Linked DNA regions of Homo sapiens. The protein of the gene in region 1 interacts with the protein of each later gene in a biochemical or structural test. Each region holds a gene or a part of one and is shown in the gene's direction. Other genes may lie near its edges.

Region 1 (3,608 bases):
CTGAGAGGTGGAGGTTGCAGTGAGCCAAGGTCACGCCACTGCACTCCAGCCTGGGAGACAGAGCAAGACTTCGTCTCAAAAAAAAAAAAAAAAAAAAAAACAGAGAAAGGTTCACGCTGGAGATATGTACCTGGAAGTTGTTTCTGAATGGTATTGAAAGCCAAGAGTCCAGATGGGCTGTGTGAAATGTCCGTGTCGCTCCCTGCAGTGAGTGAGCACTCAGCCAGTTGCCTGACTGTCCGATATCCTTCAAGCTAGGGGACGATGATGTGGCAGATGGCTTGGCCTTCCACGCCAAGCGCAGCTACCAGCCCCACGGCCGCTGGGCAGAGCGGGCCGGCCAAGAGCCCCTCAAGACCATCCTGGATGCCCAGGACCTGGATTGCTACTTTACCCCCATGAAGCCCGAGAGTCTGGAGAACTCCATTCTGGATTCACTGGAGCCACAGAGCCTGGCCAGCCTGCTGAGTGAGGTACACACTTCCACCGCAGCCTGGCCCATAGCCCCGGCACCGTGACGGCCCCAGGGCCTGGCGCCTTAGGCTGACTCCCACTCCATGGGGGCAGGGAGGATTACATGAGATGGTGAAGGGCAGGAGGGTGAGCCCCAGGTCTGTTGCACAGCAAGACTTCCCAAGGCAGACAGGGAGTCTTTGGAAAGTGGGTCACTTGGGGGTTAAGAGCTTGGATGCTAGAGCAGGCTTGTACCCAAGTGGGGGACATTTGGGTAGATCGAGCCCTGACCCTACCCATTCCTGTTGTGTGACCTGGAGTAAGAGGCTTACCTCTTTGGGCTTCAGTCTTCTAAAAAGTAGTCATAATGGGGTCAGGGGCAGTGGCTAACACCTGTAATCCCAGCATTTGGGGAGGCCAAGGCAGGAGGATTACTTAACGATCACTTGAGGAGTTCAAGGCCAGCCTAGGCAACGTAGCAAGATCCCACCTCTACAAAAATATTTTTTAAATTTTTTTGTTTGTTTTGTTTTTAAATGGTAATAACAATCTCTTCTGCCCCAGAGGGCTTTTACAGGAATCCATGCTTAAGTATAGGGCCTGGGCTCTTAGAGGTGCCCGTGCAACTTTAGCTCTTTCTCTACTATTTTCCAAACAAAATTCATTTTTATCCTATCCTATAATTTGTCATCTTCATTGTGGTATAATATACATCCAGTAACATGCACAGATTTTAGGTATACAGCTTGATGAACTATCTGTGTAATTCACGTGTGTCCACTACCCTGGGCAAAATCTGGAGTGTTTTCTACCTCATAGAAACCCCCTTCTGCCCTTCCCAGTCAGGTCCCCGCACCAGGATAACCAGTGTTCTGACCTCTCACCAAGGACTGGGTTTCCTATTCTTGAACTTGATATAAATAGACACGTAGAGGGTTGGGCCTCCTATTTTTGGTGCCACACCTCTTCCTCATCTGTAAAGGGACTGATAATGCAGGGGCAGACCAGGACAAGCTGGTTGCGAGTGGAGGGCATGGCACAGGCCCTGGTTCACAGCCTCCAGCAGTGGGGCTGCTGGCATGGTTCCTGGCGCACTGTTGGTGGCCCCAGCCATGCCTGCCTCAGAATGGCTGTGCTGTCTTCCCCATAGTCAGAGAGTCCCCAGGAAGCTGGCCGCGGGCACCCCTCCTTCCTGCCCCAGCAGAAGGAATCATCTGAGGCCAGTGAGCTCATCCTCTACTCTCTGGAGGCAGAAGTGACAGTCACAGGGACAGACAGGTGGGTGTCCTTTCCACCAAGGGAGCCTTAGTTGGAGGAACCCCCAGCTGATAGCTGCATCCTGGAAGAAGTGCTCTCTGCCTTCCCAGTGGGCTTGTGGGAGTGGGGACAGTTGAGGCCTGGATGGGGCAGGAGCCCAGCCTTAGTTCCCTGGTTCCAGGTGGGGTACAGGAGGGCCTGACCTGGGGGAAGGAGGGGGCATTTGGAGGAGGCGGGGAGGCTGTCGCAGTGCTCCTGCAGGAGCAGCGGGTACAGGTGCCTAGGGGCTCCGGGTGGGGCTAGCTGTTGAGTCTCCAGCTGAAGTCCTTGTTCCCTCTCTGCCCCCACTGGCACTGCAGCCAGTATTGCAGGAAGGAGGTGGAGGCCGGGCCTGGAGACCAGCAGGGCGACTCCTACCTCAGGGTGTCCTCCGACAGCCCAAAGGACCAGAGCCCGCCTGAGGGTGAGTGCAGGGCAGGCAGGGACCCTGTGACAGTCTGTGCGTTCAGCCAAGCCCCTTTCTGGGCACCGATGGTGACTTTGACCCAGTACTGAAGCTCAGAGTCTGTCGAGGAAGACACATGTGGTCCCTGCTGCTGCCTGAGGATTCTGGGCCCAGCTGCCTACAGCTGAGAGCCCAGCTCTGCCACCTCCTTGATGTGGAACTTCCCTTATTCATAAAATGGGGGGCAGCTGCTCTTACCATCCCTCCTCCAGATGGGGAAACTGAGCCCAGGGAAGGGTAGCCCTGGCCCTGGCTCACCAGAATGGTCAGGCTGTGGGCTCCTGACCCCGACTCTGTCCTTCAGACTCGGGGGAGTCAGAGGCCGACCTGGAGTGCAGCTTCGCAGCCATCCACTCCCCAGCTCCGCCTCCTGACCCTGCCCCTCGGTTTGCCACGTCGCTGCCCCATTTCCCAGGTAAGCAGGGGCCAGACACGCAGGGGACTCGCTGCTCGGGCCTGGCTTAGGGCCAGTCACAATGTCTAAGCACAGGCCCTGCACTTGGAGCCCACTGAGCCTGGAAGACGGGGATCCCTGCTTCTCAGCCTGCGGGCAACAGGGCAGGGATGGGTGGGGCCCGCTTTCTCCATTTCAGGTGGCGTCTGCTGTGACTCATGGTGTTGGCTCCTCTTGTCCCTCCCCTCCTTCCCTGTCAGGATGCGCAGGTCCCACAGAAGATGAGCTGTCCCTGCCCGAGGGACCCAGCGTCCCCAGCAGCTCCCTACCCCAGACTCCGGAGCAGGAGAAGTTCCTCCGCCACCACTTTGAGACACTGACTGAGTCCCCCTGCAGAGGTAGGGCCCTGCCTCACCCACACCTGCCGAGGCCGTCTGTGCAGCCTGGGCACAGCATTGGCGTCCCTGGAGTTGGCTCCCCAGCAGGGCCAGGAGGGTGAGTGGAGAGCAACTGCTTCGTTTTTTTTGAGACGGAGTCTCGCTCTGTTGCCAGGCTGGAGTGCGGTGGCCCAATCTTGGCTCACTGCAACCTCCGACTCCCTGGTTCAAGCAATTCTCCTGCCTCAGCCTCCTGAGTAGCTGGGATTATAGGCATCCACAACCACGCCCTGCTAATTTTTTGTATTTTTAGTAGAGATGAGGTTTCACCATGTTGGCCAGACTGGTCTCAAACTCCTGCCTCAGATGATCTGCCCGCCTTGGCCTCCCAAAGTGCTGGGATTACAGGCGTGAGCCACCGTGCCCGGCCCACTGCTTCACTCTTGACCTGAGCCTCACGATGCCTCCTCACCCACTGCCCCTGCTCGTACCCTGTGTCTGTACATAAGGGTTTCTGGGGAGTGCCCCGCTGGGCTGTGGGCTGGCCTAGGGCCAGGGCTGCTCGGCGGGAAGGGTTATGAGGGTCCCCTCGGGATCTTCCCCTAGAGCTCTTCCCCGCAGC
Region 2 (3,603 bases), on another chromosome or scaffold:
TTAGCATTATCTTAAAACCACAAAAAACAATAACTTTAGACCTAATTGGTTTCATGACTTATTGAGGAGGCGAGGAATAGGTTAAAGCTGCTTTGCATACATTTTGGAATAGTCTCTTTTGTCTAGTAAGGATGGATAAGTTTGTTAATAACCAGTATTCACATGGGTAGAAAAAAAGTGTCTTGATTTTTAATCCTACAAGTAGTAAAGGAATGGTAGTCAGAAGTTGAATCGTACTTTTAATGCCTCAGGCAGGATAGAATAGTATTGTTTTGTTTTGTATCCCAATATGCCTAACTACTTCTCTCTCTCTCCTTTCTGTTTTGCTTCTCATCCTTTCACCCATTACAGTCTCAGTATGTGTGTTACACCAGGAGGTTGCCTTGGCAGGTCAGAGGATCTGTCACAGTGAAGGCACTGTGGTACCCTTTGTTTTTTAGGCAAGGATGACACATGCTAGTCAACTTATTTCCATTTGTTGTTCCCTCCACTTGGCACTAAATGAGACTTAACCATTTTTGAATCAAAGTTTATAAATTTCTTACAAAAATTAAGGTTTTTATTCTCTATAATAAGCACATGAGAAAGACTGGTTTTAAATTTTAAACTGTGGAGTGACGTAAAAACATGTTTAATTTTAATTATTTGCTTTCTTTTGTTCGTCTTGTAAGTTATTAATGTATTAATACTGGTAACTTCTAGATTGGAGGAATGATTTATCCTAATGTTTCTTTTTTAAAAAAAACTATCAGTCATTCATATGGCATATGCTAATCAAGGCTCTGCGGTATTTTTTTTCTTATGTTTTTTAATGAAGCAGCTCTTTTCATGATCTAGCAGTCTGTGTTACTATCAGTACGTAAACAGTAAGGACTCAAATTTTAAGATTAAAACAAGTTCATTTTGTTAACATCATGTTTTGTTGCATCTTGCAGCTTCTTGGTGAATTTTTGGATGAAGCCATTAAATTAATTGCTTGCCATCATGAGCAGAAGCAAGCGTGACAACAATTTTTATAGTGTAGAGATTGGAGATTCTACATTCACAGTCCTGAAACGATATCAGAATTTAAAACCTATAGGCTCAGGAGCTCAAGGAATAGTATGGTAAGTGTTTACTTCCAAAAATTAGGCAAAGAATCATTAACTGCTACCTTTTCTCCTCTCGTAATTTAGATACCTTGGCAAATATTTAACTTGCTTTGAAAAATTAAATTAAAACTAAAAATTAAACGAAAACTATTCCACAGTAAATTGTTTGCTTCAGGATCAATGGTCTTTTCTTTATTATTATTATTAAAGGTTGAGTATCCCTTATCTGAAATGCTTAGGACCAGAAGTGTCAGATTTTGGAATATTTGCATTGGTTGAGCATTCCAAATTCAAATCAGAAATACTTCAGTGAACATTTCCTTTGAGCATCATGTCAGTGCCCCCAAAATTTAGATTCTCGAGCATTTTAGATTTCATATTTTCAGATTTGGGATAATAACCTGTATTATTCATAAGATACAACTCTATAAACTAGCACTGCCATCTTTAAGTATAAACTATGATTAAATACTTGGGCATAGCCATTGAAGACAAATATCTCTATCAGCAAAGAATAAGTGGCATGCTTGTTAATTTCATGTATACATGTATTCCCATAGATAATTGTTTAATAAGAAGCTTCACTTAGTCATCACTTTCACACTATAATGAAGCGTGGAATTTCAGAAATCTTATTCTATACTGGGGAATGAAGTCAGCTAATATCTCACTGTGTGTGTTTCAAAATTCATCCATATGTTTAAAATTGATTTATTAGCTAATTTCTACAAAAGCCTCAGGCTATATCAGCATAATTCTTTATAAACTGAAATGCAGATCACTCTTTGGGATAGTTCTGATACTGATTGCAGATCACTAAATTAGCATAATAATAAACTAGTGTTTTGGGGAATTATAAGCCTCACTCAAGAATAATTATATTTTTATTACCTCTTCTTGAAACAAATTTCAGAATCTATTCTAAACAAAATGTAAACTGTTAAGTATTTATAATCCAGTATTTCTCCTAGGTTCTAAAAAAACTGTTTTACATGTGCACAGGGAGTCATGCATAGGATTGGTGTTTGCAGCACCATTTATAACAGCAAAAATTGGAAATAGCATCAAATCTATCAACAGAAGAATAAAAAATTGTGATACAGTCATGCTGTGAAATACTATATAACATTTTAAACGAACTGGAGCCATATGTGTCAACAAGGATAACCTCAGAAATGTAGTGCTGGGCTTCAAAGCAAGATGTAGAATATATATATACATCATTATACCATTTACATGTAGCTTAAAATATGCAAAGCAGTACCATATATTTATGGATTATATATATGTACAAAAGATTAAAACATGCATAAATACCAAACTTAGGATGTTGTTTATCTCTGAGAAAATAGAGAAAAGAAAGGAGGTTTGACCTATAATATTATATTTCTTTCTAAAAAATTCAGAGCAAGCCGGGCGCGGTGGCTCACGCCTATAATCCCCGCACTTTGGGAGGCCGAGGTGGGTGGATCATGAGGTCAGGAGTTCAAGACCAGCCTGGCCAACATGGTGAAACCCTGTCTGTACTCAAAATACAAAAATTAGCTGGGCATGGTGGCACATGCCTGTAATCCCAGCTACTTGGGAGGCGGAGGCAGGAGAATAGCTTGAACCCGGGAGGTGGAGGTTGTGGTGAGCTGAGATGGTGTCACTGCACTCCAGCCTGGGTGATAGAGTGAGACTCCGTCTAAAAAAAAAAAAAAAATCAGAGCAATTATGGTAACGTATTAAGATTTAATAAATTTGCATAATAGAATGGCATTTATTATCTTTCCTGCATTCTTGAAGTAATTTACAATATCAAAAATTATAGAAGTTGGAGTCATTTTGTAAGCCGTTTTGACTGGCCTGTTCTCATTGTAACCAACCACATTTAACCAACCATAAATTAAATTTAAAGAAAATCATATTATATAGTCAGTATTAGGATTCTGAAAGCCAGCTCTCTGTTCAGATTTTGTTTTTTGTTTTTTGTTTTTTTGTTTTTTTGTTTTTTTTTGAGACAGAGTCTCACTCTGTCGCCCAGGCTAGAGTGCAGTGGCGTGATCTTGGCTCACTGCAAGCTCCGCCTCCCGGGTTCACGCCATTCTCCCGCCTCAGCCTCCGGAGTAGCTGGGGCTACAGGTGCCTGCCACCACGCCCGGCTAATTTGTGTGTGTGTGTGTGTGTGTGTGTGTGTGTGTGTGTGTGTATTTTTAGTAGAGACAGGGTTTCACCATGTTAGCCGGGATGGTCTCGATCTCCTGATCTCGTGATCTACCCGCCTCGGCCTCCCAAAGTGCTGGGATTACAGGCGTGAGCCACTGCGCCTGGCCCTTCTGTATTTATTTTATTGTGTCCAAAAGGATAGAAGTAATGTGTTTACATAGAATTATTCAGCAAATCTTTTGAGTAGAATTTATATGCTTTTTTTTTTTTTGAGGGAGTCTACCAGGCTGGAGTGCGGTGGTGCGATCTTGGCTCACTGCAACTTCCGCCTCCCAGGTTCAAGTGATTCCCTTGCCTTAGCCTC

The links.
Region 2: of the proteins of WDR62 (region 1) and MAPK8, one has a biochemical effect on the other in vitro, tested with the Homo sapiens proteins (one study listed by BioGRID).

Annotation. Positions count from the first base shown.
Region 1 is NC_000019.10:36,099,145-36,102,752, forward strand, and holds part of WDR62 (WD repeat-containing protein 62), read left to right. Parts: intron 1-254; coding exon 255-473; intron 474-1,603; coding exon 1,604-1,731; intron 1,732-2,069; coding exon 2,070-2,173; intron 2,174-2,519; coding exon 2,520-2,630; intron 2,631-2,869; coding exon 2,870-3,007; intron 3,008-3,592; coding exon 3,593-3,608. UniProt on the Homo sapiens protein: Required for cerebral cortical development. Plays a role in neuronal proliferation and migration.
Region 2 is NC_000010.11:48,400,677-48,404,279, forward strand, and holds part of MAPK8 (mitogen-activated protein kinase 8), read left to right. Parts: intron 1-935; 5' UTR 936-984; coding exon 985-1,106; intron 1,107-3,603. UniProt on the Homo sapiens protein: Serine/threonine-protein kinase involved in various processes such as cell proliferation, differentiation, migration, transformation and programmed cell death.